Linked DNA regions of Homo sapiens. The protein of the gene in region 3 interacts with the protein of the main gene of each other region in a biochemical or structural test. Each region holds a gene or a part of one and is shown on either strand. Other genes may lie near its edges.

The links.
Region 1: the proteins of MPP1 (region 3) and SLCO1C1 interact in a test that uses a peptide from one of them, tested with the Homo sapiens proteins (one large-scale study listed by IntAct).
Region 2: the proteins of MPP1 (region 3) and DOCK4 interact in a test that uses a peptide from one of them, tested with the Homo sapiens proteins (one large-scale study listed by IntAct).
Region 4: the proteins of MPP1 (region 3) and RASSF6 interact in a test that uses a peptide from one of them, tested with the Homo sapiens proteins (one large-scale study listed by IntAct).
Region 5: the proteins of MPP1 (region 3) and DGKZ interact in a test that uses a peptide from one of them, tested with the Homo sapiens proteins (one large-scale study listed by IntAct).
Region 6: the proteins of MPP1 (region 3) and ARHGEF16 interact in a test that uses a peptide from one of them, tested with the Homo sapiens proteins (one large-scale study listed by IntAct).
Region 7: the proteins of MPP1 (region 3) and SLC15A5 interact in a test that uses a peptide from one of them, tested with the Homo sapiens proteins (one large-scale study listed by IntAct).

The regions. Positions count from the first base shown.
Region 1 is NC_000012.12:20,701,645-20,705,876, forward strand, and holds part of SLCO1C1 (solute carrier organic anion transporter family member 1C1), read left to right. Parts: intron 1-4,232. UniProt on the Homo sapiens protein: Mediates the Na(+)-independent high affinity transport of organic anions such as the thyroid hormones L-thyroxine (T4), L-thyroxine sulfate (T4S), and 3,3',5'-triiodo-L-thyronine (reverse T3, rT3) at the plasma membrane.
Region 2 is NC_000007.14:111,741,012-111,745,243, reverse strand, and holds part of DOCK4 (dedicator of cytokinesis protein 4), read left to right. Parts: intron 1-3,111; coding exon 3,112-3,231; intron 3,232-3,582; coding exon 3,583-3,704; intron 3,705-4,029; coding exon 4,030-4,150; intron 4,151-4,232. UniProt on the Homo sapiens protein: Functions as a guanine nucleotide exchange factor (GEF) that promotes the exchange of GDP to GTP, converting inactive GDP-bound small GTPases into their active GTP-bound form. Involved in regulation of adherens junction between cells.
Region 3 is NC_000023.11:154,777,462-154,781,495, forward strand, and holds the end of MPP1 (55 kDa erythrocyte membrane protein), read right to left. Parts: intron 3,853-4,034; coding exon 3,778-3,852; intron 1,893-3,777; coding exon 1,716-1,892; 3' UTR 1,223-1,715; downstream 1-1,222. UniProt on the Homo sapiens protein: Essential regulator of neutrophil polarity. Regulates neutrophil polarization by regulating AKT1 phosphorylation through a mechanism that is independent of PIK3CG activity.
Region 4 is NC_000004.12:73,617,635-73,622,318, forward strand, and holds the start of RASSF6 (ras association domain-containing protein 6), read right to left. Parts: upstream 2,803-4,684; 5' UTR 2,654-2,802; intron 1-2,653.
Region 5 is NC_000011.10:46,367,254-46,371,485, forward strand, and holds part of DGKZ (diacylglycerol kinase zeta), read left to right. Parts: intron 1-37; coding exon 38-146; intron 147-398; coding exon 399-494; intron 495-748; coding exon of another isoform or gene 749-751; coding exon 752-826; intron 827-2,240; coding exon 2,241-2,297; intron 2,298-2,687; coding exon 2,688-2,756; intron 2,757-4,059; coding exon 4,060-4,131; intron 4,132-4,232. UniProt on the Homo sapiens protein: Diacylglycerol kinase that converts diacylglycerol/DAG into phosphatidic acid/phosphatidate/PA and regulates the respective levels of these two bioactive lipids.
Region 6 is NC_000001.11:3,464,177-3,468,408, forward strand, and holds part of ARHGEF16 (rho guanine nucleotide exchange factor 16), read left to right. Parts: intron 1-1,971; coding exon 1,972-2,017; intron 2,018-2,625; exon of another isoform or gene 2,626-2,738; intron 2,739-2,991; coding exon 2,992-3,161; exon of another isoform or gene 3,162-3,174; intron 3,175-4,232. UniProt on the Homo sapiens protein: Guanyl-nucleotide exchange factor of the RHOG GTPase stimulating the exchange of RHOG-associated GDP for GTP. May play a role in chemotactic cell migration by mediating the activation of RAC1 by EPHA2.
Region 7 is NC_000012.12:16,270,703-16,274,934, reverse strand, and holds part of SLC15A5 (solute carrier family 15 member 5), read left to right. Parts: exon of another isoform or gene 1-410; intron 411-1,498; exon of another isoform or gene 1,499-1,593; intron 1,594-2,151; coding exon 2,152-2,374; exon of another isoform or gene 2,375-2,388; intron 2,389-3,452; exon of another isoform or gene 3,453-4,232. UniProt on the Homo sapiens protein: Proton oligopeptide cotransporter.

The DNA.
Region 1 (4,232 bases), on a different chromosome or scaffold from region 3:
ACAGTAAATTTTTCTCCCCAGGTGTTTGGTATTGTATGGTTCACACAATTCAGAGTTCTACATCAGAGTAAGTGACTTTCTTGGAGGAAAGGGTGAGATGCTAATTGGTATTTTGAGTTATAAATATGTAGAAGTATCTTTACAGAAGAACAATACACCCTGGGAGCACTATGATTCAATTTTAGAGGTGTGGAATAATCCAAATGCGCTCTACAAGAATTTACTGCAATGATGAATAGAAGTTACATCATAAAAGGGATTTTTCCACCCAGTGGTCTAGAAAGAAGAATAAAGGGATTCTATTACCAAGAACACAAGATCAGAGCAGGCAATAAAAATTCAAATCTCAGGTGCCTTTGGTTAGCAATTGACTACAGACTCCTTAGAAATTAAAAAGATCGAGTAATTTGAGTCACTGTTTTAGAAGTAATTTAAAGAGGATAATCCTAGTTAGTCTGCTTCCTGAATTGATAAACTAAAAGGCTTTAATTTTTTGCTGAAGTAAACGAAATAGTACCCTCTCTGGTCCTTAAGGCTTGTTTAGATTCAGATATACACCATAGTAAAACCTCTAACTGCTCCAATTTTAGCTTTACCTGGTGAACTTTCAGAAAAGTGAATAAATATTTTTCAACTCTTTAACAATTTATTTCTTTTCATACATACTATGTGTTTTGGTTCTTACTCTGAATATCACAGAAAAAATAAAATGAATAAGTAACCTTTTGCCTTCAGGCATTTGCTTCCCAAATTCATCTTTTGTCATCCTTCCAGAATGACATTTCTTAGTGCCAAATTTTAATGTCCACACAAATAACTGGGCAATCTTTTAAAAATCTTTTTTTAAAACCTGAATTGGTAGGAACAGGATAAAATTCTGCATTTCTAATAAGCTCCTAAATGATACTGATGCTTCTAGTCAGTAGATCACATTTTGTGTAGCAGGTTTCCAAAACATCTGATCACATCAATCTTTTATGTAATTTGCTTAGATTGGCCCGGATGGTTGATTTATTCCTTGAGCCCTGTTCTACTGATGGCCCTGCACTGAGTGAAGGGCCAAAGAGAATCAAGGTAAAGGGTGATACATTATATCATGAGAGAAAAACAAGGAGAAAGAGGTAACTGGTGCAGATAAAAGAATAGAGCAGATATGAGCAGGCAAAACATTATATATCATGATGTTTTGATGTTTTTCTCACTCTAGATTATTATATAAAAATATTTTAGAGCTGAAGAGGCATAGAAATGATTTGGTCCAAAGTTTTGTTTGGGCTCCCAGGTCCTGATGCAACTTGAGAGACAAAGTTTATATTTGATAGAGAGAGTATACTAAGTTTTCACAGGAAGTAGCAGAAAACCATGACTCCAAATTCACATTAATTCTTCCAGACCATTCTAGGTATATAAATTATTTATTGGATTGGATGCCTTAAAATGGCTTAAAAGTTCTCTTACTTCCATTGAAAACCTTTATCCCAAACATCACAGGTTTGCCCTAATTATTTGAGTTACATAAATTTCCAGACAAATGACTTCGCTGAACATAATCTTAATTTACTTCTTTTGCCTCTTTTTGCATTCCTTCTTTTCAAGATTCTAGAACAAATATCATCCTCCGTCTTTATGTTATTTGTATGTGGCAACTTTGTTGAAATTCTATTAGTTTTAATTGATTTTCCATGGAAACTGTAGAGTTTTGTGGACAAATTGTCTAAAACAAAATATAATTTCGTATCTTTCTTTGCAACTCTTAGATTTTTGTTGTTGTTGTTGATATTACCTTATTACATTAGCCTCAGAACTGTGTTGAAGAGAAGCATTTACAATGGACATCTTTCTCTTGTGTTTGACCTTGATGCAAATACTTTTAAAATTTTAGTATTAAGCAATATGCTTGCTTTGTGGTTTTGATAGATACACTTTAAAAGCTGGTTTGCTCAGATTTGTTTTTTCCTAACATAAATCAATGGTTAATTTTATTTAGTACTTTTACAGTGTCTATTAAGTTAACCATGGAATTATTCCCCTTCCATTTGTTATATAGGGATTTAATTAATAATTTATTGTTAGTTGGTGGTACTCTTGTACTACTATAATGAACTGCGCTTGGTTGGGATATTTTTATTTGTATATACTATTCCGTTTGCTAATAATTTGTTTAGGATTTTTACATCTATCTTCATAATCAAGTTTGGGCTCTAATTGTCTTTTCTTATATTGTCCTTGTCCAGTTTTGGTTTTAAGAAAATAGTAGTCTTACAAGATGAATTGAGTAGCTTTCTTTTTTTTCTGTTATCTCGAGTGTGTCTGTGTGTGTGTGTGTGTGTGTGTGTGTGTGTGCATAGACAGACAGAAAAAGAGAGGAGAGCAAGAATATGTTACTTTAAAGTTTGGTAAGACATATTTCTAAAACTTTCTGTACCTGTTTTTTTGTGAGAGGCTAATGATGGTAGATATGGAATAATTTTTATATCCAATTTCATTTTTTAAAGATTTTGTATCATCATTTATATTTCAAATGTATCTCCTGACAACTCAGAAAGGATACTAAGGAAGCAAAAACTTTGATAGATACAGTATATATATGGTATATAGATATATATATATATCTGTATTACAGGTACTGAACTCATATTGTCTTGTATATGACATGCCCATTAACGTAACACAGAAATAGCTTGTAAACAGAAGTGTTTATTGTGTGGTATTGGTGGAGTGTAGGCGAGAATAGGAGAGAATTACCTATAAAGTGAATGTCAACTTTCATTTTATGTTGGTTCGTTTATTGTGGTACATTAACAAACATATAGATAGAATTATCAAAATAATATGATACACAATGTCTTCTACTAAATACTTAAATTTCAAATGAGACATCTTGTGCTAAATTATTCGTTTTTTAATATGAACATTAAGAAGAGCTTAATTCTTCTTGGAGCCATAAAGACTAGGACCACTGTGCAAGTCATGTTTCTCACTATCATTCTTATTATCCTCAAGCCCACAAAAATTACTGCTTTATTTCCAGTTTACTAAAGCTGGCAATGTGCGTGAACAGTAGTAAATTAGATGATTGCTTACAGATGTAGGGAAACATGCTTTGCTCAAAAATTGGAAATGAGGAGAACTTCAAAGCAAGGCCACCCATTAGCCATCACAATCAATTGCTGGGAAATTGTTAAGATCTTACTGTATTTAGCATGGTACATCTTAAAAACTAAATATCTCAAATAAATATAGCTAAAGCTTTAAAGCCCCTTGAAGTCTAAAACCCTAAACAATGTTTATCAAAGCATGTTCTAGGAATCATCTCCATCAACACACTTGAGTTAGTATTACAAATGCAGATTTCTTGGCCTGACCTCAGATCCATGGAATCAGAAACGTTTGGTACTTGCCAAGAATCGCATTTTTAACAAGTTTTCATTTCCTTAACCGTTTCCTGTCAGTATTTTTACGCACAGCAAAGCGTGAGAAATATTACTTGAAACATGTTTAATCACTTATCACCATCATCAACTAAAAGTAACGTGTCACATGCTTCATTAGAGACATTTTAGAAAACCATAATTTCTACTTTCAAAAAAACCCAATATTTTTAAACCATTTTTCACAAAAGAGATAAATGGGCACATTTTATAGAGATTTTGTATTTCATAAAATTTGCTTTATAGGCATATGTTGAGGTTATATAATTGATGTACACCTGAAGTCGCCTATGTGGAATAATTTTTATTTCTATTTTGAGTCTTAATCTTTTTGTACAAAGTTTATTAACAAATCATAAAGTATCATTTGTGTACATGTGTTTCATCATTTTATTTCATTTAAAGTACAGTTGTGTTTAATTTTTCTATAAAAGATATCAGCTAAATAATTTGTAATGTGTAGTCCATGAGCAATTAGAACACTAATAGAAGTTTTCACATAAATTTTAATGAATAAAGAAAAAATAAGAAGTTTACTTCAAATTTACTAAAAAATATTTGAGAGGGAAGCTAAAGGGAGCCTTCTAGAATTTGACTTACTGATAAAATATTTTACAAGGACAAATAATTAGGTTGGGTGAAGTGAGGTAGAAGGATTGAATTAAAATATTTCGATAAAGGGATAAGGTGATTGAAGTAATGAACATGAGAATTTCAAGGGTCATCTCAGATTAAAGGAAAAAAATTAAATGATGCAGAGATGGCTTAGTTAAAAGAAAACATTGCTTGGTCTGCTGTATA
Region 2 (4,232 bases), on a different chromosome or scaffold from region 3:
ATAGGTTACATGATATGGACAAAACTACATACAACTCATCATTTTCTACCCCCAGAGAAGCGTGGTTTATTTATTTGGAACCATCAAGTACAAAGAACTGGAATGAGTAATCTGTTGCCTACTGTGTCCCTATTGATAGCCTGAAATGGTTTGAAAACCTCTGAGGTAGGAGACATGGTTGGAAGCCTGTGTTAAACAGGAAATAAAGACATTTGCTTCCTGTGAAAAGTGGAATATGTGTGATGAAACATGACAAAGGCATTTCTTTCTACCCAATAATGCCAAATTAATAAGTAAAGCATGCTCTTTGGATTAGAAAATGAGGTCGTGTCTGGTTTTCATCCATCTTTTATGCTCTGTAGGCTTAGTCCACAAAACCTAATACTACAGGGAGAGAGGTGGCCACAGAAGAGAGAGAAGAATTACTTGAAGCTGATCTGTAAGGAAATAAAGAATAAGTCAAGTTCTCAATGTGACTCTGGGTGTTTGTAGATACTAGAAGTGAGCAGTTGAGGTCATCCATTACTTAGGATTATGCAATGACTTTAACCTTCATTGATTTTTAAAGATCTGTGTTTTACCTCTTATGAATGGTTCACTCCACCCCAGGACTGTATCTGCTGGATTCAGCCTGACTGAATTATTTCCCCAGAATTAAATGGTAGCTCAGGGTCAAGAAGACTGCCAAGAAAAATAAAACCAGGGAACCTTTATTTCTTCTACGTCCTGCTTATGTTCCTGAAACCTTGTGGAAAGAGCCATGGCCTAGAAAATGTGAGATCTCTGTTATAAGACAAGCAGTGCACGTGACTGTCAATGTGCCCTTGGCCAAGTCTCATCATCTCTGTGGGGAGGTGGACTGGAGAGGGCACCATCCTTCTCTGGACCTCTGCAAAGTAGTTCAGATAAACTCTCTAGAGGACAGAGACATGCACCACCCCAGTGCTCCTTCCAGGACAGACTTACTCTGCCTCAGCTGCAGGAAATGTGGCTCTCAACAGACATCTCCAGCTGTCAGGCCCTTCAGGGATTGCCTCCACTGCAGAGAGCCACTTGGCCCAAGGTTGCTACCTTCTCAGTGGTGCACATCCCATACTGAGGAAGCAATAGAAAGCCTGGCCATTTGGGACCAACACAGGACAACTTTGACAGACCATTAAAGGTCCAGAGGTTGAGGTAGGAGTATCATCTGACACCAGGAGTTCAAGACTAGCCTGGGCAACATAGCAAGACCCCATCTCTACAAAAACCTAAAAACTAGCTGGGTGTGGTGGTGCATGCCTGTAGGCCCAGCTACTTGGGAGGCTGAGGTGGGAGGATCACCTTAGCCCAGGAGTTCGAGGTTGCAGTGAGCTATGATCACACCACTGCATTCCTTCCTGGGCAGCAGAGTGAGACTCTGTCTCTAAAAAGATTAAAATACAGATAAATTTTTAAGAACATTCCAGAGGTCCCTTGGGTTTGGCAGTAGCTGACAGGACTGCTGTGCAGCTCAACTTCTTTTCTTGTCAAGTCCGGCTTCTGTCCCTCCCCCTGACAGGCATCAATCCCAAGGTACACCCTGATAAACATTATGAAATCCATGCTGGAGTCTACTTCCCAGAGAACCCAACTTGCAACATTCTGTGAACAAAAGGGAAGTCACCCAACGCTAGTGTTTAAAATGGAGAAGACTGGGGGCCTCTGCGTTTAGATCCACCTCCTACATCCCTTCCATGTCCTCATCACAGATGTAGCCTCTCCCTTTATGCCTCATACACACTGCACTCCAAGTGTGCCTTTCAAAGGCATCCTTGATATTTGTTATGCAAATATGCTGGCAGTGGGCAGCATCCAGAGCCCCGTCCCTTAGGGAAGGTGCTGGATGCCCCAACCCGCCAGGGTCAGTCCTGTTTGACCTGAGCTTTCAACCTAAAATCTTCACGAGCTGCAAAGATTAAAAATAGCAACAATAACAACAAAACCTTGTGGTGATATAGGATTCGTTTTCCTCCCAGTCTATGGAATTTGTCCTTTTGACCATGTTAGCATGGGGGGCATTTTTAAAATACAAAAGACAGCTGCTGCTCGAATCAAAGGAATCACACACTGTTGATGGTTGCACAAAGGAAGGTTGAATGTTTACCTTCATCTCTTCGGATCCTCACTGCAGGAAAGTTTTTTAAGTAGGACCTGCTCTCTCGTTGAATTATAAGTGAATATGAATAATGTTTTTTGGGATTTTTTTCTTTTTTCTTTTTTTTTTCTTTTTGGAGACAGAGTCTAGCTCTGTCACCTAGGCTGAAATGCAGTGGCATGATCTTGGCTCACTACAACCTCCACCTCCCGGATTCAAGCAATCCTCCTGCCTCAGCCACTCGAGTAGTTGGAACTACAGGCACGTGCCACCACACCTGGCTAATTTTTGTATTTTTAGTAGAGACAGCGTTTCACTGTGTTGTCCAGGCTGGTCTTGAACTCCTGACCTTGTGATCAACCCGCCTTGGCCTCCCAAAGTGCTGGGATTACAGGCGTGAGCCACCGCGCCTGGCCAGGAATAATCTTTTTAAACAAAAACAAGAAGCATGGAAACTGTCATAGAATTCCTTTTTGTTTTGTTTTTTCCATCCTCCCTGGCAGATTCTGAAAGTCTGTGGGAGGGATGGATGAGCACAGAGGAACCTAGTGGGAGAGGGAAATGTGGGGGGAGAGGGTGCCATGCAAAGAAGAGATCTTTAAGGGAGAATTGCCGGCCCTCTTAACAGTGAGCAGCACATGCCCCTATTCCTTCTCCACCCTGGGGAGAGAAGGAAGGGGCCAAAAGGACACATAACTGTTACGAGGCATTATAATTATAGATCTAAAATACATGGGAAAGAAGCCTGGGGGAGTAGGAAAATTAAGTCTGAAATCAGAACCAAGTTCTAATCCCCATTTGTCTTTTATCCATGCAGGATTTTTCAGATCCTCAGTTTTTCTTCACCTGTAAAGTGACAGCTGTTCCTACCTTGTCAGAGGCAGAGGATTAGCAATAATGCAAGCGAAATGCGTAGTAAAGTGCTCGGCCCATAGCAGGCACTTAGTGAGAGGTAGTCATTGATGTGAGGTTTTTTCCTTATGTTGTGAATTAAGGCACAGATTCTGGAATTTGGTTTGGCCGTGCATGAGAAGTTTGTACCTCAAGATATGAGACCCCTTCACAAAAAGCTGGTTGACCAATTCTTTGTGATGAAGTCGAGCTTAGGGATACAGGTATGTATACTTAGGTGTCCATGGCGGGGCAGCCTGATCACTGCCGTTTGCTTGTTAAAGGGATGATGATGTATCCAATAGTGACATCTTGTGGTTTTTCTACCAAACTGCACTGTTTTACCAGGGAGCCCTCAAATACAATTGCCTTGTCTGCTATTTGCGAGGCTTTCCTTTTGGGAAAACACAAATGTAAGTGAGGGAAAGCCAAATAATACTGGAACTTGCTTTAATAGCTCCCTATGTGAAGACTTGATGGCAATTAGGATGTGTGCCTAGTATGCTAACCTGTCTCATAAGTTATTTTGCCCAAATCATTACTGTAATGAGATATTTCCTTTACTACATCTTTAGGAGTTCTCTGCTTGTATGCAAGCCAGTCCTGTCCATTTTCCTAATGGAAGCCCTCGTGTGTGTAGAAACTCAGCACCTGCTTCTGTGAGCCCAGATGGTACCAGGGTAATTCCTAGACGCAGGTAAGTCATATTCCAAATTATCTTACAATTTGGCCTCACCCGCAAGCTGATCTGGAATGGTTCTCTCATTCTTTATGGCACAATTTGTCAAATACGCTATTTCTTAATGAAATAACTAACCCGCGAGGCAGCTGCAGACCTCTGCCACCAGTAAAACAGCAACAGCATGAGAAATAAATAAACTCAAACATTTGATTATATTGAGGCAAACAGGAGAAAACAAAACGGAATGTATTTTCCCCCCTTTGGTTTCATAGCATTCTAGCACATGATAAAGTACAATTTGGAGACTGAGTTAATGACCTTTTTTTTCCCCCTGAAACAGCCCGTTAAGTTACCCAGCTGTCAACCGATATTCTTCCTCCTCACTGTCCTCACAAGCTTCTGCTGAAGTAAGCAATATTACAGGGCAATCAGAAAGCTCTGATGAAGTCTTTAACATGCAGGTACTTAATTAGCTTTTTGTCTGGTTGTGTTTATTCCTTTTCTGTCTCAATCATGAGTGTTTCTGTTCATTCTGCTGTGCTG
Region 3 (4,034 bases):
GACTACTTGTTCCTGTGCCCTCTTGTTTTAGGCCTCGTTTACTTTTAAAAAATGAAATTGTTCATTGCTGGGAGAAGAATGTTGTAATTTTTACTTATTAAAGTCAACTTGTTAAGTTTTTTATGTATTCCTGTTGGGTTTTCTTGTTGATCTCATGCTAGCAGAGCAAAAATTGTAAAATATTTTGATTAAAAATCTAGGGACCTTTATGTCCTATTTGAAATGTGATGCTTTTATGTTTGTTTTCTGGTTTTTACATTTTTGTTCTGTATCTTACACAATCCACCTTGGGCCCTGTCATCTGATGTGAGATCAAGTACTCAGAGGCAGTGATTACCACAAAACCACTGATCTCTAGAAGAACAGAGAAGGAGAGGGTTAATGTATTTATACATAGTGGGCCTGGCAGGAGCGGGGGGCAGGGTGAGTCGGGAGAACGAAGCTGAGGGTGGGGACATGCAGGAATCTGAAGGCCTTGGTGACAGATTAGTGGAAGAAAGGTCTAGGGTTGCTTCCGATTTGGTATTAAGAACCAAGAAAGAGGCCGGGTGCAATGGCTCACACCTATAATCCCAGTGCTTTGGGAGGCTGAGGCGGGCAGATCACCCGAGGTCAGGAGTCTGAGACCAGCCTGGGCCAACATGGCAAAACCCATCTCTACTACAAATACAAAAATTAGCCAGGTGTGGTGGCGTGTGCCTGTAATCCCAGCTACTCGGGAGGCTGAGGCAGGAGAATCCCCTGGAACCTGGGAGGTGGAGGTTGCAGTGAGCCGAGATCCTGCCACTGCACTCCAGCCTGGCAAAACAGACTGTCTCAAAAAAAAAAAAAAAAAAAAAAAAAAAAAAGCGCTCTTGGATGCAGCGAGGCGAGGCCCTGAGCTGTAGCCATATCATGAGCCAGGCATGCAGGGTGGGCCCCAGCCCTGGCTCAGCGACCGGCCTCCACTGTACCACGGGACCCCAGGCTTGGATTTTCTCTCGTTCTAAATATGTGCCCACAATGAGCGCTCCACTAGCTACAACAACCTTAAGGGTGTTTTTCTACATGGGCACTAGCCAGTAGAGCCCTGCAGTGGGGGCAGAGAATGGGGACTCTTCCAGGGCACCAGTGTTTATCATCTGAACACAAGAGAGGCATCTTGTGTTAATGCTGTTGTCCAGGAGCTTAAGTGAAATGGGCCACATTTCTTTTTGTGTGGAAACCCAGAGTTACAAGGTCATTGGCATTTCAACACAGCATTTTTATTGCTTTTGAAGGTTTCCCTAGAGCAGACATCATTCTATTGCACAGATGTGTCATTTTGGCATTATAGAAAGTTGCAGTTAAAAACGCTTTCTCCAAAATAAAAAGACAAATGAAATACCCAGCATATACAGTTGAAGGCAAAGGAGGGCAGGCTTTAGAGGGATGGGGTCCATTGCTTTTGCTGTGCATCACCCTTGATTAGCAGTTACATTTTGGTAGTACTTCTTACCCCCAATTTCTAGAAATCCTTTTCAAATCCAGATCAGTGGGGCCCCATCTATCAGGAGAATCAACCCTTCAGGAGCCTGAGCAAGAAGACTGAACCTTACTGGCTGAATTAGGATAGCTGCAGAGAGCTGGAAGCTGACACAAAACTAGTTGGAGCAGCCCTGTTTGTCTTAAAGCAAGGCGGGTGGAATTCCAAATGCTGGAGAGGGGCATACAGTGGGTTCCCCCATTCTACAAGCTTAGTAAACCCAGGAGACAGGCACCCACTGTGGAGAACTGCACGCTTGGTCGAAGGCTTCTTGTAATTTCTTAAGGGTTTCATCAACACCATTATTGACCAGTGAGAGGTCAAAGTAGTGAGCGTACTGGCTGCGGATGGCCTCAGAGTCCTTCTGCAGCTGCTGCAGGGCTTCTGTCTGCAAAGAAGAAAGCCACAGATGAAGCAAGCTGCACCACCCCCAGCCCAGAGAGGCCAGTGACAGATTTTAAACAGCAATTGTTAGCGTTGCTCAGCTGTGCATCATACTTGACGAGTCAAATTCAGAAGACATTGTGAAAGAATGTTAATGTAGGGCATGAAGAGGCAATCTCAAAAGACCATGGCAATTCTCAGAGGATCTCAAGCTAACCCTGACTAATCAGAGTCCTCTGGAGGACCAATAGCTATGCAGAGACAGCATGGACTTCACCAGCATCTCCCACTTAATGCCCTTTGAACATGGAAGAGCCATTTCAACAACCACCAGAGCTGCAATCCTAAAACGAAGATAAAGGTGATTTTGTTGTTTTGTTTTGTTTTGAGACAGTGTCTTGCTCTGTGGCCCAGGCTGGAGTGCAGTGGCACAATCTCGGCTCACTGCAACCTCCGCCTCCCGGGTTCAAGCAATTCTCGTGTCTCAGCCTCCCGAGTAGCTGGGATTACAGGCATGCGCCACCACATCTGGCTAATTTTTGTATTTTTAGTAGAGACAGGGTTTTGCCATGTTGGCCAGGCTGGTCTGGAACTTTAGACCTCAGGTGATCCGCCCGCCTCGGCCTCTCAAAGTGCTGGGATTACAGGTGTGAGCCACTGCACCCAGTCAGATAAAGGTGACTTCTAATCCCAGATCACACCTGTAATCCCAGCACTTTGGAAGGCCAAGGCAGGATGATTGCTTGAGCACAGGAGTTCAAGACCAGCCTGGCAACACAGTGAGACCCCATTTCTACAAAAAACAAAATTTAAAAATGTGTGTGTATATATATCTCAGGACTCTGTCTTTGACCTAAAACCAAGCAGCCATGAAAGACAAATCATGTAACTACATAAAAGTAAAAATGTCTGCATAGCAAAAAGACATGCCAAATTGGAAAAAAATTGCAGCTGATATTACAAAGGGCTAATTACCCTAATATAGACTTCCTATAAATCAAAGGTCAATAACTCAGCAGAAAAATGAGCTAAGGGTATGACCAGATAATTCTCAGAAAAGGCAATACAAATTGCTCTTCATATGAAAAAGTACCTGATCATCTCTTTTAGTAAAAAAGAAATATGAGATACTATTTTTCCCTCCAGTAGACTGGCAAAAAAAGAAAATTTTGACAACATGCTGCAGGCAAAGAGAAACAAGCAGTCTCACAGGTGGTTGGCGGTCCCTGTCCAAATTCTAAGTGTGTGTGCTCTTGGACCCAGTGATCCTACTTGGAGTTTTTCCTACAGATATATTTGCACACATGTGCTATATGCACAGGGCTATTGACTGCAGTATTACACATGCATGCAGCAGAAGACCAAGCAGCTATAGAGAAAAAGAGTTCCTCACACCCTGATAGGGAAAGGTGTCCATTGTTCAATGCAAAAGCACAGTGCAGCAAAGTGCATGGGTAGGGCTGGGCAGAGGAGCAGGGTAGGCTTTTTGATATATTCCTGGCCTCTCTGTCTTTCCCCACAGCCATACTGCACCCCAGGGCGGGTTCAGTGCCACCTCTGTCCATCACAGCTTCCCCTGCCAGAGCCTGCATCCCACCAGTATCAGGATCTGCTCAACTGTCCATCTCTGCCCCTGGAACTGTGTGCCTCCAGGACGATGACTGGGTCTGGTTTGTTTTGTCCCTGTTAGGTAGCATGGGCACTGGCCTAGCTAGTGGCTTAAGAGCTGGAACGAATGTGCATACCCTTTGGCTTCTTGGCCCTGGAGGAAGAAGCCCAGCTGGAGCTGTGACCTCCAGCCAGCACTCTGGCCAATGACCTGGACTGAGGTCCCAGTATGGGCAGGCCCGGAGAAAGTGAACTACCCATCGCGCACAACCTCTCCTCACCTGAGTGCCCTGGTCAGTAGGTGCAATGAACACAATGAAAGGCGAAAGTTCTGCTGTCCGAACAATTTTCAGGGTCTAGAAAAAAAAAAGAAGGGCGGCGGGGAGGGGGGGGAAGGAAGAAAAGGAAAGTGAAAAAAAAAAACCTACATAGCTGTCATAATGGATTCCTTCTAATAAGCAGCTTTGAGCTTTACCCCAATACAACTTTCCATCATTCCCAGTACTACTGTTCTTGTTCCAGGCTGACCCCATTAAAA
Region 4 (4,684 bases), on a different chromosome or scaffold from region 3:
CCTTTAAGTTAACATCCTTATTACTTAAATAGGAGACACTTCATGTTCTACTCCTGAAAGCAGTGGTATTAGTTAAGTTTGGTTGTTGAGATTATGTTATGAAAGTGATGAAATCACTATAATTTATCATTTTAAACATACAAATTAATTTTTGCAACAGAATAACTCTCTAACTGTAATGTGAAAGGAAAATATTCAGAATTCCTTTCTCAGAGGTTTTGTTTTCAAATGGCCTATACTTGAATATTTTAAAAATCTAAGCTTTTATATGAAGCCCATGTAACTCTAGTAACCGTGAATTCCCCACCTACATTGCAATCAATGAATCTATATAAGCAAATGGACTGTCAGCATTGGGTTTCTATCTCAGTTAAAAGTAAAGGATCCTTCTTATTTTAGGAAATTAAAACAAGAATCAGGTATAGAACTTTTAATTACATGCTTAAAAGACTTGTTACATACATGTTACACTATTTTGAATATAACTGGAAAAGTTAATTTTTTCGTAATCATTGCTGGGTCTCTCTGTGTCACTCTTTTCTCTCTTTCTCTCTCTCTCTGATTGACCACAACATTTAATAGTTTATAATAAAATGTTATACACGTGAGAAATAGTAGAATAAATGTAAATTCAACACAATATTCTAATGTATAGATATAAAGTTGTTATCTATCTATCTATCTATCTAAACAGATTTTAACTAGAAAGACTTCCACCCAGTTACGGTTAAGTAGATTAATCTCAAATCAATTTCAAATATGGTTAAATAAATTTATCTCAATTGGGGCTACTATTCTTTATTTAGACATATGTCTATCAATAAATATAAAGGCAAATAACTTTGTTTAAGGATGTATAACAATATGGAAATTCAGCATAAAAGCATATTTCCTCTTTGAAAAATCTTTAATGAATATTGGAACCCTAACTTATTCTAATTCAATTTGATTCCTTTATAAGTTTTTAGCTAAACTGTACTAAACACAATCAGACCCCAGAGGGAAATAACATAGTAAACTTCAGTTAGGTTGGGTTTAGAATTCTATCCACAATTCTCCAGTCAATATCTAATTGTAAGCACACTGAAGAATTTCAACTCTGCAATTTGAAAAAAGAATCCATTAAAACACCAATGATATTAAGTTAGAGTATACTGCAAACTCTTTGACTGCTTTATTTAATAAAATAACAAGATAAAAATGAAGTCAATGGAAATTACTAGTCATAGACACTAAGTTGGTCCCCTCAAGAAAATTAGCAACATTAATAACTAACAACATTGACAAAAGTGCCCTTTAAGTGAAACTTCATAAAATAAAGCCACTTTCCTGTAATTTAAGCTTAAGAGGTAGAGACTGACAAAATACAAGTATTATTCCTTCATGTCTCTTGTCCATCAACACAAATTAAAAACAGCACTTCAATACAAACAATTCAATATGTGCTGAAATATAAAGACATGGATTATATGGTCTAAATTGATGAAAGTTATTCAAAAGCAGTCTCCTTTATAAAACCCAAATGGCATGAATTCCACAATATGAGATTGTGTGTAACTCTCTTACTCTAAAATTCTATTTTCTTTTTAGGAATAACAGATTAATGTAAATGTGAATTTTTCAAAAGAAAACTGATTGAGTAGCAAATATGTCTGAATTTGCCACCACATACTCTATCTGAAAAATGGAAAGAAGCCAGGTCATTTCGTTGCTACCCAGAGAGATGATCCTAGCACACCTGTCACCTGCTTGCCTGTCCTGGATCCAGTCTCCGGGAACCAGTTCAATTCCAGCATCCTAATACACACTGTCTGGTCTCCCTAGTTCAGCTTGCCCTCCCTGATAACGGCCCCTTTGGCAGAGCAGCTTATTCTTAATGCTAACAGTAGGTATCACTTACAGAACACTTGCTGACTGTTCAGTTCCCATCAAAGAAAGCCTTATGTGGCAGATCCTTTGATGATGCTTGTTTTACAGACAAACGTTTGGGGCTTAGGTTAAGAAACTTGAGAGGGGGCAAACTAATAAGTGGCAAAGCCGAGCTTTGAACCTACCACTCTTCTGCTTCAGAATTCATATCCTTAACTCATGCACTCCCATTTAATTATTTATGTTTATTATTTCATTGTTTGGTGAGCGCTTATATTGAAAATTCATTTTTTTTTTGGTGGGGGGCATGCTTTCTGTCACTTTGCAGAAACAAATAAAAGTTGAGCTGAACCCTCAATTAAGTTCTTTCCAGTGCGATGATTCAACACAATATTCTAACCATAAGGATACTCAGAGGAAGGAGTATGCCATCCAGAAGTCTAGTATCTTTGTAAGGCACGATTTTTGCCAGGCACAATTACAGGTGAAGGGCTCATTGAACTAAAGGGAGGAGGGGTCCTATGGTCACATTTACCTCCAAGCCCTTCTCTGCACCCTTTCCCTCCCTTCTTTCCCCTCTCTCCCTCCCACCCTACAAGCTTACCTTGGTTAGGAAAGCATATTCTGAGAAAATCAAAAGGAAAAGGCATGTGTGCGATTCAGGCTGCTATGACACACACACACTTAACTTTGTTGCCTATGGATTCTGCTTTCTAATAACTTGCCCTCAACATGACCCCAGGGAGTGGATTAGAAAGTTTTTTTCCCCATCCCCATTTTTTACCTGTTATTCACACTGTGAGCAGGAGGACCCTTTTCACCATCGTTGTTCGGCTGAACTTGCTTCGCGGTTTGTTCTCGGCTGGGTCAGGAACTCTGGTAGAGGGAAACCAGTGCCCTGTCTCTGCCGGGCTGGGACTCCGCGAGTCACTCACCTGTAGGGGAGGTCCGAGGCCCGCGCGGGCGCAGGGGCGGCGCCTGTCTCCTCCCAGAGCATGGCTCAGCTGGGCGCTTGCAGTGCCCCCGACGCGATCAGCGATCCTGGAGCCCCAGGAGCTGTTAATTATTTCTCCTTTTCGCCACAGCAGGGAAGTGTCAAGAAACCTGAGCCACTCCCTGTGCCTCAGTGCATGTTGGGAGTGTTTACTTTCTTAGGAACAGCTGATAGGTACACTCCTTTGCTCTCTGCCACACTTCTTGAGAAATGAATGGACATTCTAGTTAACGCTTTAACCACGGGATTTGACTGATGTTAATCTCTATTCTCTAGTCCACCCAGACTGTAGGTAATTGGCCTGTGAGAAATGACACCAACCAAGACTGAACGCCATTATTCACGTCTTTCTTTTTAAGATTTTTCTTTTCCAATTTGAGATTTGTTAACTTTCTTTTCCTTGTTATTTTGCTAACACATTTCCCTGCTAGCACTTTTTTTCACCCAGAGCAGCGTTTCGCGCTTCAGGGTGCACCAGGACCACCTATGTATTCTGCTAAACCCAGGTACCATCAACTGTGAGACTCTGATTTAGTAGGCCATGCATACACTTCGGGTATTTATATTTTTTATAAGCTCCACAGAAGAAACTGGTAGACATCAAAGTTTGAAAATGAACATAATGAAACAAAACAGAGGAGATAAATAATAATTTAGTCATTATCTACTGAATTGGATTTGGGGGCTTTGTTTTATCCAATATCTCCAATTTCAAAAGGACACCAAAAAGGCTTAGAAACTGTTAAATGACAGATGCTGTGGAAATATGAAGTACATTTACACACACACACACACACACACACACACAGATTTTTAAGGATCATTGTTATTTTACTGGTTTCCTATGTAAAGCAACTATTCATAATTTTTAAACATAATAGGTTATTTTACAAGTGTAAACCTGAGAGCCCTCAAAAGAAATTCAATCTGATTCCTGCAAAAAGTTCAGCAGGCAGAGTTAATTTCTAGTATCTTTCGTGTTCAAACGCCAGACAAACAGAATGACTCTAGATGTTCAGGTTGCATGTTTGTCATAGCACTTTAAGTAAGATCCTATATGTTCAAAAGGTGAGGCAGGCCAGGTGCAGTGACTCACGCCTGTAATCTCAGCACTTTGGGAGACCAAGGCTGGTGGATCACTTGAGCCCAGGAGTTCAAGACCAGCCTGGACAACATGGCAAAACCCTGTCTCTGCAAAAAAAAAAAAAAAAATTAGCCCGGCATTGTGGGGCATGCCTATAGTCCCAGCTACTCGGGAGGCTGAGGTGGGAGGATCACTTGAGCCTGGGAAGTCGAGGCTGCAGAGAGCCAAGATTGCACCACTGCACTCCAGCCTGATTCAAAAAAAAAAAAGAAAAAATATTAGGCAGTTTATCTATTTAATCTGTGGTGTGCGGAGACCAGGAACTATCAGATTTATCATTATTTGAGCAAATGGTTTTATTGGATCACAATCAAAGATTTTACAATCTTATGTAAGGACAGATGTGACTTAGTATTACTTGCAGATATTAATTCGATCATCATGTTGGCTCCATAACTCTCTGGTATGTGGCTGCTGGTATGGACTGACCTTTGAATGATGACTAGCAGGACCTAGAGTAGTTACAGCTCTCGGTTCCAGGATATCTTGCTCAAATCCATGCTCCACCTCCATTGTCTGTGCTTGAAGTGGGTCATTTGCTTATTGTCAGCATCAGGGCAACATTCTTTTGCATCTTTTACCTGCAAGCATTGGATTTGGGGGCTTTGTTTTTTGCCAATATCTCCAATTTCAAAAGGACTCCAAAAAGGCTTAGAAACTGTTAAATGGCAGATGCT
Region 5 (4,232 bases), on a different chromosome or scaffold from region 3:
TGCTCAGCCCCCTCCTCAGCTGTCTTCTCCTCTCTAGGAAAGCCATCACCAAGTCGGGCCTCCAGCACCTGGCCCCCCCTCCGCCCACCCCTGGGGCCCCGTGCAGCGAGTCAGAGCGGCAGATCCGGAGTACAGTGGACTGGAGCGTGAGTGCCTGAACACCCCTGGGTCCCAGACCCTCTGGGCTCTTGGCCAAGGCGCAGCTGGCGGGTGGAGGCACTAAAGGCAGCTGGGAGAGCCAAGCCTGGAAGGGTTGGGACAGTGGGGCAGACGGAACAGAGCAGGGTCGATCGGGGCGCTGGAGTGGGTTTGTCTTGGGAGAGGGCGGGTGGGCGGGGGCTGATGGGAGGGAGGGCTGGGCGGCCAGCGTGTGCTGAGCAAGCCCATCCCGTGGCTAGGAGTCAGCGACATATGGGGAGCACATCTGGTTCGAGACCAACGTGTCCGGGGACTTCTGCTACGTTGGGGAGCAGTACTGTGTAGCCAGGATGCTGGTGAGTGCTCGTAGGGGCACGCCGCCCCCTGCTGGTGGAGCCAGTAGCCGCAGCCCTTCCGGGAACGTGGGATTGAGCCCGCTCCCTGGCACCCCTGCTGTGGGCCGCCCCAGGATGGTGAGGGGTGCAGGGGCTTTGTCCGGATGCCAGGACTGGGGCTTCCCAGTGCACACAAAGGGCAGCTGTGCTGGGGCAGGCAGCCTCCGAGATAGACTTACCTGGTGCCTCAGGGGCCCTCTCTTCCTGTCCTGCAGCAGAAGTCAGTGTCTCGAAGAAAGTGCGCAGCCTGCAAGATTGTGGTGCACACGCCCTGCATCGAGCAGCTGGAGAAGGTGGGTGGGTAGCTCAGCTTTGCCCGCCCCTGCCCTTTGGGTGCTGAGGCCCTTTCAGCGCGCACTCACACCCACATGTTATACAAACGGCCTGCCAGGAGTGACCCAGCACTCGGGGGTGAAGAGTCAAGGACCCTGGAGCCAAATGCCTGCGTTCGAATCCTGGCTCCTCACTGATTAGCTGCTGTATCCCCACTGCCTGGAACAAACCTGGCGCCTAGTGGGTTCGTTGAATATCACTCAATGGAATGAATTGACGAATGGTGGCCCTTGTACCATTTCACCATGTCCAAACTAGTGCTTAGAAGAGGCCATTGATTTGCTGAAGCTTCATAACTCAGCTGTGGCTACACCCTGCCTCTGTGGAGACCTTTCCCCAAGGGCCATTGTCCACTGTGCATTTGCAGCTGGGGGCATGTCTGGGCACTGTGCTTCTAGAGGTGGAGGCAGCACTGGGCAGACGGGTCAAGGCCAGGGGCAGAAGGGTTCGCATGGAGGGGCAGCGCTTCCCAGCCTGCAGAAACCCAGGCCATCATACGGGAGAGACTGTAAGACTAGGAGTGGTTCAGGCAGGCTCACACAGGCTGCTTTCCCCAGCCTCTGAATTGTAAAGTGAGGCTTCCTTATACCTCTAATAAGGCTGAAGTAGGGACAGTTATGAGAAGGGAAATAGAAATGCAGCCCCAAGCACTGTACACTCATCATTTAAGGTGGAAATCGACCTAGGGTTCCACAAATTAGCTAAAGGTCTCCAGGGGCCAGGCAGTGCAAGTCTGCGTGTGAGGACCAGGCTGGCTGCGTGTGCCCGGGTCGGGAGTGCCAGAGGGCGAGGAAGAAAGGATGCGGCCGAGTGCGGTGGCTCATGCCTGTAATCCCAGCACTTTGGGAGGCCGAGGTAGGTGGATCACCCTGAGGTCAGGAGTTTGAGACCAGCCTGGCCAACATGGTGAAACCCCATCTCTACTAAAAATCACAAAAATTAGCCAGGCGTGGTGATGCACACCTGTAATCCCAGCTACTCGGGAGGTGGAGGTTGCAGTGAGCCGAGATCGCACCACTGCACTCCAGCCTGGGCAACAGAGCGAGACTCTGTCTCAAAAAACAAAAACAAAAAAAAAACAACGAGCAAACCATGGTCCCATGTTAGTGGGGGAGACGGACCCAAAGCTCCCAACCTCCCCCTCATCCTGGGTCCTGGGTGGAAGAAGGAAAGATCCCTCTGGCTAGTGAGGAGGAGGCAGAGAGGCAGGAGGGCTTCTCACAGGAGGTGTCTCGTGTTTCAAGGACTCTCGTGACGATTTGGGGGTATCCCCACCTTGTGAGGATGACTCTGGGTTGTCCTGGAGGGAGTGACCACATACCTGACCCCGAAGGGAGGTTCTGACATTTTGGTGGTCACTGCCATGTTTCACAGATAAATTTCCGCTGTAAGCCGTCCTTCCGTGAATCAGGCTCCAGGAATGTCCGCGAGGTAAGTGCCCAGGGTGGTCAGGGATGGGGCCACCCTAAGATTCCTGCATGGGCCTCTGCGCAGTGCCTCTGGAGTGCCACCAGGGGGCTCGGCTCCCTCTAGGCTGCTGCTCACTGAGGTCTGTCTGAGGTCTGCCATGCGGAGGCCTAACTAGCGCTGCCTGCGGAGTGGGTGGGACAGCTTGTGCCTCCTGGTGCTTCCCAGCCTTCTCTGTCCCTCTGAGTCTGAGCCTCCCCCAGGCCATGAAGAGAGTCTTTAGCCCCTCCTCCACTCATGCGCAGGACTGCAGAGCGCTTCCTGCAGCCCCGTGTGTTGAGCCGTGTGGGCAGTCCTCAGGACTGTGCCCCTGCCCACCCCTCACCCAGTGAAATTTTTCCCCTTCTCCCCCAGCCAACCTTTGTACGGCACCACTGGGTACACAGACGACGCCAGGACGGCAAGTGTCGGCACTGTGGGAAGGTGAGAGGCCCTGCCCGAGGACATCGCCACCTGCACCTGCGGTCCTGAGCCCAGGCCATGTGGCCGGTGTGGCCTGCCGATCACTGACCACACCCTGGTGTGCAGAGTCCGGGGCTGACCCTCAGCCTGGCTGCAGTGCCTTCAGTTCTCAAGCACCCTGGCCTGCTCTTGGTCTCTGGGCTTAGTAGGAGAGCAGGGAGGAAAGTTTTCTTCCCATGTGGCACACCTGGCCTGCTTTGAAGCTGCAAGTGGCCCTTTGGAGAATCGTATAGACTTACTCATTCGGTGACTCCATGGATACTTGTGTGCCGAGCGCCAAGCTGGGCAGCGGTTTCCCACCCTCCTGAGGACAGTGTGGCTTGAAGCCAGGCTTTCCAGGCGACCGCCTAACCCAGTCCACAGTTGTTTGGTTCACTTTCTTGTTTGCTTCTTGCCCGCCTCCCTCAGTAAGTGCAGGCTCTCAAAGATGGAGAGGCTTGCTTCACTGATTCTCAGCGCCTGGCCCACTGCAGGCCTTTCATAACAGCCTGTGTGATGAACAGGGAATGAATGTGATAGGTACTCGGAAGCGGCAGTAAATTTCTTTAACAGCACATGGGGGTCTGGTCAGGCCTCGGGGGTAGGAAGGAGGGAAAATCCGAGTGAGGCAGGAGTTAGCCTGCAGTGTGGCAGAACGGGTATGCATGTGGTGCCGTGCAGGTAACTTCAGGGAGTCAGGGGGCCCGGGCTAAGCCACCCTGCTCTTCAGGCTTATCTTATACATATTTTTTTTTATTTTAAAAAATGTGTTCAGACTGGGTGTGGTGGCTCACGCCTGTAATCCCAGCACTTTGGGAGGCTGAGGTGGGTGGATCACCTGAGGTCAGGAATTCGAGACCAGCCTGGCTAACATGGTGAAACCCTGTCTCTACTGAAAATACAAAAAATTAGCTGGGCGTAGTGGTGGGCGCCTGTAATCCCGGCCACTCAGGAGGCTGAGACAAGAGAATCGCTTGAACCTGGAAGGTGGAGGTTGCAGTGAGCCAAGATCACGCCACTGCACTCCAGCCTGGGCAACAAGAGCGAGACTCCATCTCCAAACAAAAACAAAAAATGTGTTCAAAGCTGGGCATGGTGGCACATGCCTGTTGTTCCCAGTTACTTGGGGGGGCTGAGGCAGATTGCTTAAGCCCAGGAGTTTGAGACCAGCCTGGGCAACATAGCGAGGCCCTGTCTCTGGGTGGAGAGAGGCTGGCACCAGGAGAGGGGCTGGGTCTGCTGCTCCACGCCTGCCCTGGTTCCCATCCATCCTGTCTACCCTCAGGGATTCCAGCAGAAGTTCACCTTCCACAGCAAGGAGATTGTGGCCATCAGCTGCTCGTGGTGCAAGCAGGCAGTGAGTGGTGCCCCCGCCCCCAGGGCCAGGCCCTGCACTGCTGGGTTTGGGTCCCCGAGTCTGAACACGGTCCCGCTGAGCCCGGCCCCTCGCTCTCCTCA
Region 6 (4,232 bases), on a different chromosome or scaffold from region 3:
CTGCTGGTGGTGGCTCTAGGTCTGGGGCATGGTGGCGGCAGACCCTTTGCTGGGCAGGGTGTAGCCTGACTGCATGTGTCACTAGGGCCCAGGGGACAGAGCGTCCAGCTGGGGCTCCTGGGCCCAGTGTCCCTCATCCTCGGAGTCACCATCCCCTGCGGCTGGGGGCCAGGCCTTCATTTCAGGCAGCCCTGGAGCTGGAAGCCACGTTCAGGGAGAGTTGCGTGGTACCTGGACACCCACCCAGCCAGGACTGCGACTCTGGCCACCCTGCTTGGTCTCTTTAGCTGGTGGGTCTGGGCTCAGGCAGGGCTGGGGTAGGGGAGGCGAGCTGCCCTGGAACCGCCCATCAGGAGGCCCTGGCAGCCCGAGCACCCTCAAGAATGCAGAGCAGATGCAGGGCTGGCCCCAGGGGCGTCCTTCTTGTTGGGCGCCTTGCTCAGACGTGTTGGAAAACAGGCCCCAAGCATATGGGCTGCCTCAGTGAAGGACGAGGGCGGGGGCAGGTGCTGTGTGACCCAGATGAGTTCCTGAACCTTCCTGAGCCTTGGCTTCCCCATGTGGAAGCAAAGATCACAGCCGCCCTCTGGGCATCCTCTGGGCAGTGTCCACGGAAGGTGTGTGCCAGAGCGTCTTCTTCACTGGTTGCCGTCCCAGCTGCCTCCTCAGGCCCAGCTCCTGCCCAGACTGGGAGTGGCAGTGCCAGCCTCAGGAGACGCCAAGACCACCTGTCAGAATGTCCCATGGGCGTCCACTGCAGGCCGATGGTGGCTGAGGTGGGGTCCCCCATGTCCCCAGCACCAGCCACTGTCCTCGGTCACAGCTCTCTCTTGTGCCTACCTGAGACGCCCAGGACTCAGAAATGCCTCAGCACCTCTGCCGCAGGCCCCTGCACCCCAGCAGCTGGAAGGGCCCCAGCACTCTCTACACCCACCAGGCCCAGGCCCATGGGGCTCCGTTCATTCATTCACTGTTTATTTCATGCAGTCAGCAGACACTTCTGGGCACCTGCCACATGCTTGGTGCTGGGGTTCCAAAGTGAGCCCACGGGCATGGGCCTGGTTCTCAGAGGGCCTCCAGCGCAGGGAGAATGCCGAGGGCTGGGCTGAGGGCAGCTCGGGGGTGCTGGGAGCACAGAGGAGGGGGCTCCCCATGGCCTCGGGTCAGGGTAGGGTCCCGGAGGAAGGAGGGTTAGCGCAGAGGCAGACAGGAGGAGAGGACGGAGTCGGGGTGGGGGAGGCAACAGCTCCAGCCAGACCTGGAGGCCGAAGGGGGGCTGGGGGAGTCCTTGAGGTGGGGTGCGGGGCACGGGGCTGAGGGTGCCAGGCCAGGTACAGCTGGGAGCACCACACACTCCCAACCAGTAAGGGGAGTTTACAGGCCCCAACTCGTTCCGAGAAATCAGCCCCTTTCCTTCCGGGAACCAGCATACCTGTGGCGTCAGGAAAGTGTGGTGTCCCAGCCGAGGAGGGTGGGCTCCGAGTCGGGCACCTGAGCGTGGGGGCTTCCCAGGAGCCCAGCCCTCCCGTCACTTCTGCCATCCCGGCCTCCTGCTGGGGCCCCCAGACCCATGCTTGGGGCTGGACACTGGCCAATCCTTGCTCGTCTGTCCCACCAGGTCCTAGTCCCCAGGGGCCTGTGTCCTGCCCCACTGTCCCTTCACAGCCCTCTCCCAACCTCACCTGCCCTGCCACGGGCCTGCTCGAAACTCTTCTGAGCGTCCCCTCACGATGAGTTCAACCCTTCCTCCTCCTCCAAGCAGCCCTCAGTCACGTGTCCTGCCTGCTCTGAGCCCTCCTCCCACCTCTCTTGGCCTCTGCTTGGCGGCCGTGAGGCCCTGTGGAGCTGACATCTATTGGGCACAGCTTCGCATGTGGAGCCGAGAGGTCTCTGGGGTCCCAGGGCAGAATCGCCGTGGGCAACACCTGCCCCGGCTGACAGCTGCGGTTTCTGTGTCTCTCTTTTGTGCAGAAGACGCTGGGGAGGAAACGTGGGCACAAGGGTTCCTTCAAGGACGGTGAGTGTGGCTTCGGGAGGCACCGCGGGCTGGGCTCCAGTTGAAACTGGTCTCACTGGGGCACCCTGGGGTTCGGGTGGGCCTCAGTTTGGTGTCTCGGGGTCACCAAAGCTGCTTGACAGGGTCCTTCCAGAGGCTGAGGTCCCAGTGGCTGGTCTGTTCATGTAGCCCTGATGAGTCTAGAAAGGTCTAGAAAGTTCCCTTGGACTCTATTCTGTGTGTTCTGAAGGGCAGGGTACAGACAGAGCCCCCAGTCTTGCCCTGAACACCCCATGTGTGTGCTGGGCCCAGCCTACAGTGGCCGTGTTGGGGGACCAAGGCCAGATCAGAGGGCACCGGCCCCACACCGCGGGCTCTGCCCGGACTCTTCGAGGCTGAAGGGGAGCCATGTGTTGGGGCCTCCAGCATGGGTGGCGGTGGTGCACACTCAGCCTGCTCGGGGGAGATGAGAACATCCCACAGGGAGGTTGACATAGGGAGGTGCCTGCTACCTGGGTCCAAATGCCCGGGGGTGTAAAGAGATTAGAGGCAATGAAGCCCGGGGAGGGCTAAGGCCTCGAGTGCCCAGCTCCAGGCCTGAGGCTCCAAGACACAATGGCCCCTTCCAGCCCCCAGAAGCTTTGTGGACAGGCATGGGCCCAGGAGGGGGTACCCAGGTCTCCTCTACGGAAATCCCTGGGAAGTGTCCCCAGGAGGCAGCAGCGATGCCCCACGTCTCAGGGTAAGGCTGGTTGGGGGCTGCTGTGAGGGTTTGGAGGCACCCTGAGCCGGGACCAGCCCATTTCAGGTGGGACTTGTGGCATAGGAGAGGTCTTGGGACTGGTGCCCAGCCTGGGGCAGTCCCCTCCCAAAGCCTCCCTCTCCCACACAGCCGTGAGAGCCTGTGGGCCTAGAGGACTCAGCTGGCGGGTTGCAGGGAGGCGCAGCCTTTTGCAATCCCCCAGGGCCACAGGTTACCCTCCTTCTCTCTCTAGACCCCCAGCTCTACCAGGAGATCCAGGAGCGGGGCCTGAACACCAGCCAGGAGTCTGATGACGACATCCTCGATGAGTCCTCCAGCCCCGAGGGAACCCAGAAGGTGGACGCCACCATTGTGGTCAAGAGCTACCGGCCCGCCCAGGTCACCTGGAGCCAGCTCCCAGAGGTAGCGCCGGAGGGTGGGTGAGGCTGCCCCACAGAGGCAGGGAGAAGCCACAGTCCCCCTGCTGTTCCTTCCCCAAGCCCAGGCGGCTGGTCCCCAGCAGCAGCCCAGTCCTCCCAGGGAGGGTGGGCAGCCTTCCCAGAAGCCCCTCGGCTGTGGGTGGCAGACCTGGGGGTCTCCCTCCTGTGCCCTCAGAGTCACCCTGCCCATGCAGGGCCCTGCCGTCGTGCGTGCGAGGGCCAGCCCTGCTCAGACTACCCTTCAGGGAGCTGCGGGCGCCAGGAGTCCCTTCCCAGGGCCCCCGCCCCAGGAGAGGGCTGAATGATCTGCGTAGGGAGACAGCTGGGATGGGAGGGGCCGGGACTTGGAGCTGGGGCCAGGGCCAAGACACTCCTTCACTTTCCATATCTGAAATTGGGGGCCCGTCCCTGCCCTGCAGGGGTCTCAGTGGAGAGCGTGGCCCGGCATTGGTCCCCATGCTTGGGGGAGATGGCTGCTCCTACCCCAGGTGGACCGGCATGTGACCCGCACCCTGAGGCCCAAGGGAGGGGACCATGTGGCCGTGGGCGTGGCGGGCAGCGGGGAGGGCGGGCCCCCACCTGTGGTACAATGGGGCTCCTTGTTCGCCATTCAGAGGGGCTGGCACTGCAACCACCCACCACACACCATGGTGCTGCGTACCCTGGGACCCCGGCCAGGGCAGGCCCAGCGTGGGGTGAGGGCAGGCAGCGGGCAGCCTCCCCACAGATAGAAAGGCCTAGAAGTGCAGTCTTACTCTCCTGCTGGGAGCTGGGGGCGTGTGGTCTCCCTCTGTCGGGGATGGAGTCCAGTACCGCACCCTGGTAACTGCCAGAGTTTCCGACCCTGCATGGGAAGGAGGCACTGGTTTGGGGAATGGGGGACTCACCCTTGGCCCAGGCGCTGTTGGCGGCCTTTCTGCCCAGCCCAGTGAGGAGCAGAGCACGAATCAGGGTGGCCTGAGTCCTGCAGAGGGGACCCCTGGGCGGTGTGGCAGCCCTCCTGGTCCTGACGTGCTCTACCAATCGAGCCACACTCCCGCCAAGGCGACCCGCC
Region 7 (4,232 bases), on a different chromosome or scaffold from region 3:
TTCATATATGTCATTGTTTTGTCTCTTTACTGCATCATTTTACAACAGATAGGGATAAAGTTTTGATTTAACACAATCAGCCTATTATGACATTTTCTCAAAAGATGGAAGTAAAGTGCCTAAGTTACACAAATATATCATTCAAACTAAAAGTGCCTTGTTCCTAATAGTTCCTGCATGAAATAGTTGTCCTGTCCCTCCTCTTTGGACATCCCTTTGTCTAGCCAGGCCTCACGTCACACCTACAGAAGAGAAGACTAAGTGGTAGAAAGAGAGCAGTTAGTTTCATATCTGGCTAACCTTAAAAGGGAACATTTCAAACTCAATAATTTAAAGGGCTCACCTCATGGTAAATGAATCTGTTGCCAAATAGCTATTAAGGGCATATAGTCTTTACATTGTGAAAGCCTCTGTAGGGGAGATGGAAGCATTAGACCAAATTTTTATCTGTAAGGAATTTATAATCTAATTGAGAAAACAAATCACATGAAATAACTGTATAAAAATTTATACCAAATAACATTAATGCCAAATTAATAAAATGAAGAGCAAAACGAACATGGAGGAGCCATTTTTCACTAATCGAATCATCAAAACAAAAAAATTAATGATGCTAACTAGTATGAATGAAGATCTTCTCATACAATGATGGTAGGAGATTAACTTGTTGCATTGTTAAAGAACATTTGCCAGTGGTATTAAGAAGCAATAAAAATAGGAATGCCTTTGACTGAGAACTTAGGCTAATAAAGATGTGCACAAAACTTATGTGTCAGGGTATTTTACAGTATTCATTTAAAAATAACTGAAAAGGTATTTTAAAACACATTATGATTAGAATATCACATCATCACTAGAAATCATGTTGGAAAAGTATAAAGGTATTTTAAAAATTGTTCATATTATTTGGTTACATTAAAAACTCAACAGTGTAACCTCAATTTATTTAAGTAAAATACATTTATAAAATATATTTATATATAAGTAAAATATTTTTAAGTAAAATATAAATATTTTTAAAATATTTTATTTTATAAAAGTAAAATTATATATGTAAAGATGATCTCTGAGTAATGAGATTATGGGCCTTTTGTATTATTCTGAGTGCTTTCCTCTATTTTTCAAATTTTCTGAAGTAAGAATGTATTACTTTTGTAATCTGATGGGGGGGAATGCTATTTCCAAAAAAAAAAAAAAATTTATTTGACTACTTGATGGTAGGAGGTCCAAGAAGAGGGAGATTACAACTGGGTTACTTTATAACATTGGGCAAGCCACTTAATCTCACTGAACTTATTTCTTTAAAAAAAAATTGAATAAGAAAATCTATCCACTCACATCACAAAGTTTTTCCAAGATGAAACAATATAGTCCATGAGCATGCTTGGCAAAATATAAAGAGCTTAGCAAAAGCATGGAATTGTATAGTTATTTTTATTAGACAAGGAAAGTCATCAAGTGTGGTCCCTGCAAGGTGGAAGAGAGAAGGATACTCGACCTTCTTTTGTCACTTTAGGTCCCCTCTCCTTCCACTCACACTCCTCTGTCCCCAGCTTTCTCAACTCTGTTTGTGGCAAAGAAGGCTCCATCCAGCTGTGTGAGAAATAAGAGAAATAAGAAAGACATTACAAGGAGAAACAGAAGTAGGAAAGAAAAAAAAAAAGGCTGTGTTCTCCTCTAACTCTGATAATGTTCTTCTTAAAAGCTTTTAGGTAATAAGCTTCTGAGATGTGTGAGATCATGGTGTTTTCTGTCACTCGATTGATTAAGAACAAATAACCTTTATTAACAGTGGTTTTCTCTGGGGGTGGGAATACTAACAGCTTCATTTTTTATACAATGCTTTCCTGAGTTATTTTAATTTTGGCAAAATAAACATGATTTGCTCATACATTCTGAGAGAAAACATAGTTCAAGCTTGAGGAGAAAAAAAAAAACCTAAAACTCCGGATTAGTTGAGACACATATTGAAGGAAATTTTTACAATTGGAAAACATCAGGCTATCCCTGAAATTGCAATGACTACCATAAATGTTTGGATAAGACAATCACAAAATGATGCCACTGTCAGAGAAAAACCCTGTTTAAAATGTGATTTGGTGATCCACTTGTTCTATGCTACATTTACTCTTTTTTTTTCTCCACCTACAGGCACTGCTTTGTTATCTGTGGTGGCTTTTCCCTTGGAAGATTTCTATCTGGGCACTTACCATGCAGTTAACAACATACCAAAAACAGAGCAGCACAGGCTGTTTTATGTAGCACTGCTGACCATTTGCCTTGGCATTGGAGGCGTAAGAGCCATCGTCTGTCCACTGGGTGCTTTTGGCCTTCAGGAGTATGGATCACAAAAAACGATGTCTTTTTTTAACTGGTAAGTAGCACTGGCTAGGAGAGAAAAGAGGCTTATGACCATTCTCACTGTTTACTTTCTGATTCCATTTGGGTAGTAGTTGCTCAGTCTTTGTGATGAATTGGGCTAAGTGATGATGTGATGAATCTGTGATGATGATTCAGTCAGTAATCACAGGAGCTTCTAAGTCTCATGCAGACCAGTACAACTCACCAGCACCTTCCCAACACACGCGGACACATTTATCCTCCAGGTAAAAAGATTTGAAGTGCCTTGTCCTGCAGAATAGAATGTGGCTTTGGAACCAAAGAGACCTGGGTGGAAGTCTGGACTCTGCTTAACACAGGCTGACTGACCTTGACCTAGTCATTTATTCTCTACCTCAGTTTATTCATTTCTGAAGGGGGATAATACCTCCTCTTCTCCGGTTTTATTAGAGGTAACACCATGTGTATTGCTGGCAAAGAACTTGGCACATAGTAAGTGATCAAAAAATGGTAGCTGTTAGTATGTCTGTATTGTAATAGACTAATTTGGCAGAGATTATAAATTTCTAGGCCAATGCAGAGAGAAGATGCAAAGATGAAAGAAGTATTTTGCAATTTGTTAAAGCATCACCCAGCATCTCTGTTTCTCACCCAGTTCGCTCCCAACACCTAAAAGAGTTTATATTCCATGAAAATCAAACAGCCTTCCTGTGAATCTTTGTCTCTCCCAACGAGTTCTTATGGAGTTCGTCGGTTTTTGTGTTTTTTAAGGAAACAATTTATATTACCAAATACAAATTCAAGAAAACAAATTAATATATGGATCTTAAGGGAGGGTAGTTAAGAATTTAGTATAAAACTTCTTTGTTATTCTTTGTTATCTATCAGTGGATGTCAAACAGATGTGAGCTACATTGTCCATTTTTAGAGTAAATAGTGTCTATATGTGTATGTATAGGCATATGTAGCTATCCGAGGCAGTTCCTCTTTTCTCTTTCTTTCTTTTTCTTTCTCTTGCTCCCCTTTTTTCTTTCTCCAATTATATTAATATTACAAAGCACTCAGCCCTATTTTGGATTAAGTCCTAATGTCAGAGAACAATGCAGTCTTACCAAAGGTAGAAGGGACTCTTTACTTCCTTGCAGCAAATTCTGCCTCCTTGACCTGCCCAAAGGAGAAAGAAAAATCCTTCTTTTTTATTCTATTCGGAGGTTTTAATCCTTAATTAGCAACATCATTTTGATTAAATAAGACTCTGGAGGATTAAGACTGGAGAGCAATCAGTTGTTCTGAAAGATAGCTCTGGAGAATTTATTGTACTGTGGTCTTAGTCATTCAGAGTTGTGTTTAATCAAAGTGACATTTCTCAGTGTTGATTACAAAGGAGACATTATATGAATGAAATATTTCCTTTGGGAAACAGAGGGGACTCCCACTGGGTGTGTGCTTTAGGGCTTCAGGAAGGGGGATGGGGAATGGGGTGAAAATGAATTTCTGCAGCTGTAAGGAACCAGGCCAAATTTAGGATGAACATATTTAGATTTTTAAAAATTATTTTCTGATTTCACTAAACAGCTCACTATTTTAAAAATTTAAAGCATCTAGAAATGTGTATAAAGAATCAGGCTGTTATTTTTTAATGTGATAAAAGAACTGGATGGTAAGATCCTTGAAGGCTGAATCTGGTTGTCTTGCCTTTTTTTATTTTTCCAGTTTAAATACTAAACTACAGGCCAACTTTTATGAATGTTCACTTACCTTACTGCAGTTTATAGCAATGAATGCTGATTCCATTCCTGTACACAGTGCGGGGGCTGGTGACAAGATGGACAGAGACTCCACTGGGCAACCAGACAGCTGGCAGAATCCTGGCTCTGTCACTTAGGAGTTTT